Linked DNA regions of Homo sapiens. The protein of the gene in region 1 interacts with the protein of each later gene in a pairwise test. Each region holds a gene or a part of one and is shown in the gene's direction. Other genes may lie near its edges.

Region 1 (4,866 bases):
CCGGCGATGGCCTGACCCCTGTTCCTTTCTGCCCTCTCCCCCACGGCCCCCACCGTGCTCTCATGCGTGCCATCTCATGCTGCTTGCTGTGCTGAGAGGGGCTGAGCCTAGCACAGGTGGTGCCTGCCCAGCAGGGGCGCAGGGGCCGCGGGCCGGACCGTTCTCACGCGTCGTGACTCCCACCCGTCCGCATCTCTGCTCACGCACATTCTCTTCCGCCAGGTCTGAAATCGCCTGCTGGCCTCCCTCTGACCTGCCTCAGTTTCTCCTCTTCACTCCTCGCTGCCTGATGTGTCATTGCTTATTTGTTTATCACTTGTCCCAACTGAAGGCCTCATGAGGGCAGGACGTTTTATGTCCCGCTCAGCCCTCCAAGGCCAACCTCCAAGCTTATCAAAACCTCATGCAAAGCACGTGCTGATGGGCTGGGAAGTCCTGCGTGAGCCCTGAAGGTGGCTCTGAGGGGCTTCCCTCATCCCTTTGCTCCCAGGCGGGCCCCACGGGGTGCAGGTTCTCAGATGACTCTCTGAGGTGTGTGAATAAGGGTCTCTGTTCAGGCGCGTCCCCACAGGAGATGAGACCACAGAACGCAGCCCTGAGTTTGAAGCATCCCAGAAGGTTCTTTCTCTCTGACCCGCACACCCACCACTGTTCTGGGTGCTCACAAAACCCACCATTGCTTCTGGTAATTTCTCAGCTGCTCCTCCTGTCCAGCGACCCCTGCTGCAGAGGCCCAGGGGAAACACAGACCAGGCCTGTGAGAAGCTCCTGTTTCAGACAAAGAAATGGTGTCAGCGATAAAACTGGAAACTGTTCCCAGCTCGACACCTGACCTGGCCCTTCCACCCCCAGGATCCTGCCCCCAGGCGGCCCTTCCACCCCCAGGATCCTGCCCCCACGCGGCCCAGCCCCCACCAGGATCCTGCCCCTGCATCCTCCGCTGGGTTGGCATCTGCATTTTTGGTGCCTTCCAGGGAAAGGGGTGAGTGGGTGGGGCCTGAGGCCCTTAAGGTCCTCAGTGGAGGGAGTGCCCCTGGATTTTTTTCTGGCTGTTTTGGGGGAATTTGTGGGATCTCAGGGTCAGCAGCGGCCACACTCAGGACCCCACGATTACAGAGCCACACTTTGGCCATGACTGGCGCTGAGAACTCCAGATCTGAGAGGGCTTCGTGAGTCCCAGGGTTGGGACACCTACCTGTGTCCTCGGCACGGACCCTCCCACCGGCTCTTGTGTCTGTGGGCAGAGGCCATGTTCAGCTCTCAGTGCAGTGCTGACGGCCCACCTGGTGTCCAGGCCCCTTTGGGAAGCAGCTTTCATGCCCTGAGTCCAGCACCTCAGCCTTGAGTCCTTCAGGGCCTGACTGGGTCTTACCGAAGCCCATGCATGGTAGGGAGGTGGCCTCGGCAGCCCTGCCCTGTGGCGTAGCCCTGCGTCCCCAAGCCCTGCCTGGGTGGCACCCCTCAGTCTTCTCAACCCCATGGCCCAGCCGCCTACTCTGGGGGCGGGCGCCTTGCAAAGTCCAGAGGGCGTCCCTGCGCCCTGACACCGGTGCCCCCACCACTGCCTCAGCCCTGCACACTGGCAGTCCCCTCCCCTGGCCGGGGCCAGGCCCAGGGCTCCTGGGAAGAGCATCCTGAGGCGCCCCCAGGGCCACCACGCACCCTCCCCAGCCTAAAGCTCCATCTAAGGTCAGAGGCTCTGCAGTGGGGAGGGAGCGGCTGTCGCACGACTGCTGTGGACCCTCCCAGAGGAAGGCAGCACGTCACAGACCCTGGGGAGTGCGTGATCCCGAGGTGTCCTCCAGAGCTGCAGAGCGGGCGTCCACAGGAGGGACAGTGGAACTGCGGCGGGGAGGGGACCCGGAATAGGCTCTGATGCTGCCAGTCACACACTGAGCCTCCTAGGCCTGGAGCCCCTGGCACCCAGCTCAGCTCCCACCCTGGGCTCTGCGTGCTGCTGGCTTTATTTGGCTTAGGGGGTCCTTGGCCCAATGATGGCAGTGGGCAAGGCCTCGCTTGGCTCCACTCTGCCCGGGGCTGGACATGCGTGCCTGCGGGGCAGCTGGCTCCAAGGGTCTGAGGGGCCTCACGCCCAGCCCCAGGAGGGCCTGCCCATCTCAGCCCTCGCCACGTCCTGGTGCTCATTGGTACGGCGGGGTTTCCTGGGCTGCACCCGGCTCAGCTGGGACATGGCCCGGGTGACACCTTTCTCCTCTCCTTCCTCCATAGCAACATGGCTGACAAGGCCAAGCCTGCCAAAGCTGCCAACAGGACGCCCCCCAAGTCCCCGGGGGACCCCTCGAAGGACCGGGCAGCCAAGAGGCTGTCGCTGGAATCGGAGGGTGCTGGTGAGGGGGCAGCCGCATCCCCTGAGCTCAGTGCCCTGGAGGAGGCCTTCCGGCGCTTTGCCGTGCACGGGGACGCCAGGGCCACCGGGAGGGAGATGCACGGCAAGAACTGGTCGAAGCTGTGCAAGGACTGCCAGGTGATCGACGGCAGGAACGTGACCGTCACTGACGTGGACATCGTCTTCAGCAAGATCAAGTGAGTGCGCTGGGCTCACGGGCCGAGGGACCTGACTTACGGGGGTCTGCGGCCCTGAGCCCCTGGGTGGGTTCTGTGGGGAGCGGGCCATGGGGAGTGGAGGGGGTTGTGCTTCAAGACCCCGCCCTTCTCAGAAGCAGCCCTGACATGGGAGCCTGAACGTGCCATCTGGGCCCCCAGGGAGCAGGGGTCCGGGCATTGCCGGACTTCTCGGTGCCGAGGCCTGAGTGGCAGCCCTGGCTCCTCTCAGCCCCGTGGGTGTGTAGGGTTTCGGCATGGGAGGTGGCCTATGAGGGGATGTCTGGCCTCAGAGCAGACTCGGGGTGAATGCTGCTCCCCGGAGTCAGGGAGCTGTGACTGGGATCACTGGGCTTCCCCAGGAGTGGGGGCAGTGGCTGCCTGGAGCCTGGAGGGGCAGGTGGCTGCTGGCGGGCAGAGCTCCTGACCCTCTGTGGGCTGGCTCAGCGGCTGAGTCTCAGAGGTTGGATGCTTGTGTCCCCATGCATGGAGCTGGCCATTCGGGTGTCCCCCAGCCCCTCCCAAAGCCTTTGTGCTGCTGTATTTCTGCCCCAGGATTCCCACGGGCGGCAAAATGGCAAAGGGCACCAAGGAGGCGGCTCCGGCCACCACCTTGAAACCGCATCGTGCCGTTTGCTTTTTCTGCGTCGTGTGCACGTGTGCGCGTTTCTGTGTGCACGTGTGTGCGTTTCCGCGTCGTGTGTGCACGTGTGCGCGTTTCTGCGTGTGCACGTGTGCGCGTTTCTGCGTCGTGTGTGCGTTTCTGTGTGCACGTGTGCGCGTTTCTGCGTCGTGTGCGCGCGTGCGTTTCTGCGTCGTGTATGCGCGCGTGCGCGTTTCTGCGTCGTGTGTGCATGTTTCTGCGTCGTGTGTGCGCGTTTCTGTGTCGTGTGTGCACGTGTGCGCATGTGTGCATGTGTTTCTGCATGTGCACGTGCGTTTCTGTGTCATGTGTGCACACGTCTGTTGCCGTGTCACGCATTGTCTGTTTTCTCCTGGATGAATGCTGGGAAGCACACTGAGGCACCCTCACACGCCCCAGCACATTTCACCTCATGTCCCGACACCCCACCATGATCGCACCCGAGAAAAGCAGCGGTTCTCCCTGAGCCCCGTCCTGTCCGCCTGTGTGGCAATGGCTTTATTTCGGTGGTTTGCACCTGCGTCCTCCTGTGGCCGATGTATTTCATTCCTACATTGCCGCAAACTCATCACCTCTTTCATCTCAGAGCTCCTGCACCTTCCCCCTCTGCGGCCTTGGCTTTGCAAGGGGCCGGGCCGTGGGTCAGATGCCCCTGTGTGGAAGGCTGTGGGGCCCACCTCTGCGGCGCCAGCGCCCCATCTACCAGCTCTGGGTGGGCGCCGTGACCTTTGCAGCTGTTCCGTCTCTGCTGTGCTCCGTGGCGATGTCACATGTGTCTCCCGGGTCACACATCCCCTGGGTCTTGGGTGTCTCCTGGGTCGTGCATGTTCCTAGACTGCGTGTCCTGCTGAGCTTCCTGTTGTGTACGGCGCATCTGAGTGCATCCGAGGGCATTTGGGGTTTGGAAAGTTATGCCAGAAAAGCCATGAAACTGCTCAGAAGGATGCCTGAACCCGGACCCTCTCTCCAGCTGACTGCCTTGCAGGCTCCCCCAGCTCTAGGGGACGGCAGAGGCAACCAGGGCCAGCGAGTCCTGTTCGTCTTCCTGACAGCTCCCAGCCTCAGTCCCAGAGAAGCTGGAGGGGAGGCTCCATCCAGGGCCCCGGGTGCGAGCTGGTCTCATCCTTGACCCTGTCCAGTCCCAGTGGCCCCGCCAACCTCCTCTGTGGCTTCCCAGCCTCAGTGTCCTCATGGGCTCAGCCACTGGCCGGTGTGAGAGGAGGCTGTGGCTGGCCCCTCTGTGTAGGTAGTCATGCAACCTTGTGCTCCCCGGCCTCGGAAAGGGCCATCATTTGCCAACACCTTAGCGGTTGGAGCCCACACTAACCCAGGACCACTCATCCCTGGGGCCCCTTGAGACCAGGAAGGCACAAGGAGCCTGCCAGAGCAAGGGGACCAGCAGGGGCCCAACAAGGGCTGGGGCTCAGCCCTCGAGGGTCCGTCCAACAGCCTGCACCTCTGGCACTGCACTCCCGGCCACACTGTACCCCCCATGCTGCACCCCTGGCCACACCGCACCCCCAGCCACACTGCACCCCCGGCCACACGGCATCCCCGGCCACACTGCACCCCTGGTCACACTGCAGCCCCGGCCACAATGTACCCCTGGCCACACTGCACCCCCTGTGCTGCACCCCAGCCACACTGCACCCACCGTGCTG
Region 2 (4,866 bases), on another chromosome or scaffold:
TGGGATTACAGGCATATGCCACCGTGCCTGGCTAAATTTTTTTGTATTTTTAGTAGAGACGGGATTTCACCATGCTGGCCAGGCTGATCTTAAACTCCTGACCTCAGGTGATCCGCCCGCCTCAGCCTCCCAAAGTGCTGAGATTACAGGCGGGAGCCACCATGCCTGGCCCATATCTGCTTTTAGAATACTATGGTTGCTATCATTGGCTTGCCTTCAAATATTTGCCTCTTTGTTGTTGCACTAACTTGGGCAACTAATGTGTTTCTAACAGGCTTTTGTGACTGATTGTTTGTTCTGCAAAGCAGTTTTCCTAGATGGCTGTCCAGTTGCTTCATGTGTCCTTGTCTTGTAGTTCATTGAGCTGACTTTTTTACTCCCTGTTATTGTATTGCTGATTTTTACTCCCTGGTCATACTGCAGTTTATTTAAGTCTGTTTTGTGCTCTCTTGTGCAGAAGTGTGTGTAAATTTTTCCCAATGACATCAGTTTGTTCTTTTTCCAGAAAGAAAAGTGGTAAAATCAAGTCTTCTTACAAGAGGGAGTGTATAAACCTTGGTTGTGATGTTGACTTTGATTTTGCTGGACCTGCAATCCATGGTTCAGCTGTCTTTGGTTATGAGGGCTGGCTTGCTGGCTACCAGATGACCTTTGACAGTGCCAAATCAAAGCTGACAAGGAATAACTTTGCAGTGGGCTACAGGACTGGGGACTTCCAGCTACACACTAATGTGTAAGTATTTCTTTCATAGGATACTGTGATGTGGGCCCTCAGAGGATGATTTTGATGTCTGTCATCTTATTGATCTGGGTGCACCCTAAAGGATTTCTCATAACATTTAAAAACAAAATCATTCTTGGTCATTTCTAGGGTGCCCCTTGAAAGTTTATAGTAGAAGACTGTTAGTCTGACCTTTGGTGCTGAGAGAGTAAATGTTCATTTTATATGGGGTTTAATGTGCTTTGTATTTTTACAAGAGGCATTATATATTGGCAGACTGCTACCAGTACATTCATTTTACTTAATTATTTTGATGTGTGAGATGCTGACTTGATAGGATTGCCTAAAATGTATGGTGTTTTGTGGTTGGGTTTTTTTTTCTTTTTCTTTTTTCTTTCTTTTTTTGTTTTGGTTCAGACAGAGTCTTGCTCTTTTGCGATCTCGGCTCACTCCAACATCCGCCTCCCGGGTTCAAACAATTCTCCTGCCTCAACCTCCCAAGTAGCTGGGACTACAGGCGTGTGCCACCATGCCTGGCTAATTTTTGTATTTTTGGTAGAGACGGGGTTTCACCATGCTGGCAAGGCTGGTCTGGAACTCCTGACCTCGTGATCTGCCAAAGTGCTGGGATTACAGGCGTGAGCCACTGTGCCCGGCTATTGTTGTTTTTTTGTTTGTTTGTTTTTAATTATTTTTGTAGAGATGGGGTCTTGCTATGTTGCCCAGGCTTGTCTCAAACTCCTGGCCTCAAGCGATCCTCCCGCCTCAGCCTTCCAAAGTGTTGGGATTATAGGCGTGAGCCACTGCATCCAGCCTGGTGTTTTTACCTAGCCCAAACTAGATAGATACATAGAAAGTACTTAAAATGTTTTTCTTTCCATTGTAAAAATTCATTGGTAAATAACAGAAGCACAAAGAAGAAAACCTACGTTTCTTACAATCATGCCAGCTAGGTATATAATCTTTGTTAATGTTGTGGTTCACCTTTTTATATGTGTGTGTATATATACTTATATATAAAATACGTAACCAAAAGGCTGTTTGAGAACCTCTTGCATGTTTAATACAGTGTGATAATTCCACTGAATGGATATTCTGTGGTTCATTTTACCAATCCCTGTATGGGTATGGGTTGGGGAAAAAAACCTGTTAAAACTTGCAAGTTTTCAGTGGAACACTAAAGACCCACTTGAGCTGTGGTTTTTTATTTAAATGTAATGCTACAAATCAGCCTGTGCCTTAGACATTATTACATTGTCTATTCTAGATCTACTAATTTAAAATATCTTATAGCAATGATGGGACAGAATTTGGAGGATCAATTTATCAGAAAGTTTGTGAAGATCTTGACACTTCAGTAAACCTTGCTTGGACATCAGGTACCAACTGCACTCGTTTTGGCATTGCAGCTAAATATCAGTTGGATCCCACTGCTTCCATTTCTGTGAGTACTTTTGTGGACTTAGAATGGGGGTTTTGGTTGTGGGAATGAGTCTTTGGGTATACTGAATTATGTTGAAAATTTGAACTGATTTCACACAGTCCCCAGTTTACAGATAGATTAGTTTTAGATTTTGAAATGCGCTTTTTTGATGGATACAGTGTTAGACGTTTTATTTCCAGGCCAGGCTGGTGGAGTTTGTTTAACCTCAAAAGCTGCCGAGTTAATGTTGATGATAACCTTGAGCCATAGGCCTGTCTAAGTCCAGGTATAGCTGGTGTTTGGTCCCTGAGTGGTTCTTACTGTGTCAGAAATAATAGTGCTTTTTTAAGGCTCTCTGTTGTCGAGGCTGGACTGCAGTGGCACAATCACGACTCCCGGCACCTTGACATCCTGGGTTCAACCTCAGCCTCCTACTATTCCCAACTAATTTTTTGATGTTTTTTTGTAGAGATGGGATCTCCATATGTTGCCCATCCTAGGCTCAAGCTATCATCCTGTCTCAGCCTCCCAAAGGAGGCTGTTGGGATTATAGGCATGAGCCACTGCACCTGGCTAGTATTTTAATCATCACTTTGTCTTTTTTTTTTTTTTTTCTTTTTTGAGATGGAGTCTCTGTCGCCCGGGCTGGGGTGCAGTAGTGCGATCTTGGCTCACTGCAACCTCCGCCTCCTGGGTTCAAGCAGCTCTTCTGCCTCAGCCTCCTGAGTAGCTGAGATTACAGGTGCCCGCCACCACACCTGGCTAATTTTTTTGTATTTTTTAGTAAAGATGGGATTTGTTGGCCAGACTGGTCTCAAACTCCTGACCCCAAGTGATCCACCCGCCTCAGCCTCCCAAAGTGCTGGGATTACAGGCATGAGACACCACAGCTGGCCGCCTTCTCCATTTCTAATTGCACTACAGCAATAAAAACCTCAAGATTCATACAGTACACTATTCTGTTACTTACATTGATGTTCTTGGATGTCTGTGGCATTTTAACAGATTTAATGTAAGTGGAAGAAGCTTCTCTCAGCTACTAGGAGTTCATAGTTAAAATGGGAAGGCAGCTTGGGACCCCTGTGTCATTTAATGACTCCTGGGAATTAGTTTGGAAATGTACCTAGCCTTTCCCACTTCAGTAATGTTAGCTGCCACTCCAATTCAGCAGTACCCAGAAGCATTGCTTAATGCTCCTTGTGATATTAGGAAGTATATATTTGGTTCTCCTTCCCTCTCCTGGCATAGAACTCCTAAAAAATCCTTGGAATCCCGAAAGTATTAAGTATCTTTTTGTATGCTAATGAGTTTTGACTGGTGGCTGGCCACCTTTAGGTAGCTTCGGGCTGGAGGCTAGTCAGTGGAGAGACCAAGGTGTGATTAGAGGGGGTGGGGAGAGGGGCTGTAGGTTTAATTGTTCACCAATGGCTAGTGGTTTAATCAGTCATGCCTGTATAATGAAGCCTCATGAAAACCCACAAGGACAGAGGTCAGTGAGCTAGGTAGCTGAGGTTACTGGAAGGTGGCATGTCTGGAGAGGGCATTGAAGCTGTGTCCCTTCCTATGTTTTGCACTGTACATCTCTTCATCTGTATCCTTTGTAATATCCTTTATTAAAACTGGTAAATGTAAATAAAGTGTTTCTTGAGTTCTGTGACCTGCTCTAGGAGATTAATTGAACCCAAGAAGGGGCTTGTGGGAACCTCTGTTTAGAGGTGCCAGGTCAGAAGCAGAGTTAAAACAACCTGGGGCTTGCAGTTGGCATCTGAAGTGGGAGGAGGGCAGTCTTGTGGGACTAAGCCCTTAACCTGTGGCATCTGATGTCTCCAGGTAGAATTAGAGGACATTTAGCCAGTGTCTGCTGCAGAAATTATTGCTTGCTTGGTGTGTGAGGAAAGCCCTCACACATGTGGTCACAGAAGCATTCTGTGTTGTGAGAGAATAGTAGGAGAAACTGAGTTGGTTTTTTTCTGTATCCTCAGAATTGATGTCAGGATTGGGATTTGCTAGAGTGGCTCTAGCTAGAGTGGCTCATCGAAGCATGGTTTAGGAAGAAAAAGGATAAATGGATGGGAAATGAGGAACTTTTGACTCCTGGGTGGTCAGATGGTCACCCCTGCTATGGAGCCACAACTGTGCTGTGCTCAGGTACTTAAAAATTACCAGTGGAATTCAAAGATAGATCCAACTCCAAGGGAGTTGGTTCACTGGGTGCATAAGGAAACGCAAACAATAAGAAACAAACAAAATATACAATCCCTTGATTATTGTTATTTGTGATAGCTAAAATCAAAGTGAAAGAGTGCTGGATTGTACCTTGATGCTAGACCAAGCTCAGGTTTCATTTGGTTTAAGCCTTGGCCACCAGCCTCAAAGCCACCTTGCAAGGGTAAAAAGTACCCCTAAGACCTGTATTTGCTGTATTTTGCCCAGTTTGGAGAAATTTAAAAAGTCAGAAGTTAGAGATTACATTGAGAAATGTGATCTGAAATTGCCTGGGGCAGTAGTCAGGCTTATTAATCAAGATAAAGGCTGACAAATGGGGAAGGGTAGATTTCTGTTGGAAAGGCAAAGCAAATATCTCTAATTCTTACTGATCTGTAACGAAACTGATTTTTTTTGTACCATGCTCATACTGCCATATGGTAATATTGTTGGCAGATTAAACTCCCTTGTGTAAATAAGTCTTATAATACTGATTGATGATTATATGTATTGTGAA

The links.
Region 2: the proteins of TPPP (region 1) and VDAC2 interact in binary tests that used the Homo sapiens proteins (3 or more experiments, as listed by UniProt).

The regions. Positions count from the first base shown.
Region 1 is NC_000005.10:675,428-680,293, reverse strand, and holds part of TPPP (tubulin polymerization-promoting protein), read left to right. Parts: intron 1-351; exon of another isoform or gene 352-785; coding exon of another isoform or gene 786-982; intron 983-2,229; coding exon of another isoform or gene 2,230-2,233; coding exon 2,234-2,544; intron 2,545-3,677; exon of another isoform or gene 3,678-4,866.
Region 2 is NC_000010.11:75,220,238-75,225,103, forward strand, and holds part of VDAC2 (non-selective voltage-gated ion channel VDAC2), read left to right. Parts: intron 1-505; coding exon 506-733; intron 734-2,014; coding exon 2,015-2,165; intron 2,166-4,866. UniProt on the Homo sapiens protein: Non-selective voltage-gated ion channel that mediates the transport of anions and cations through the mitochondrion outer membrane and plasma membrane.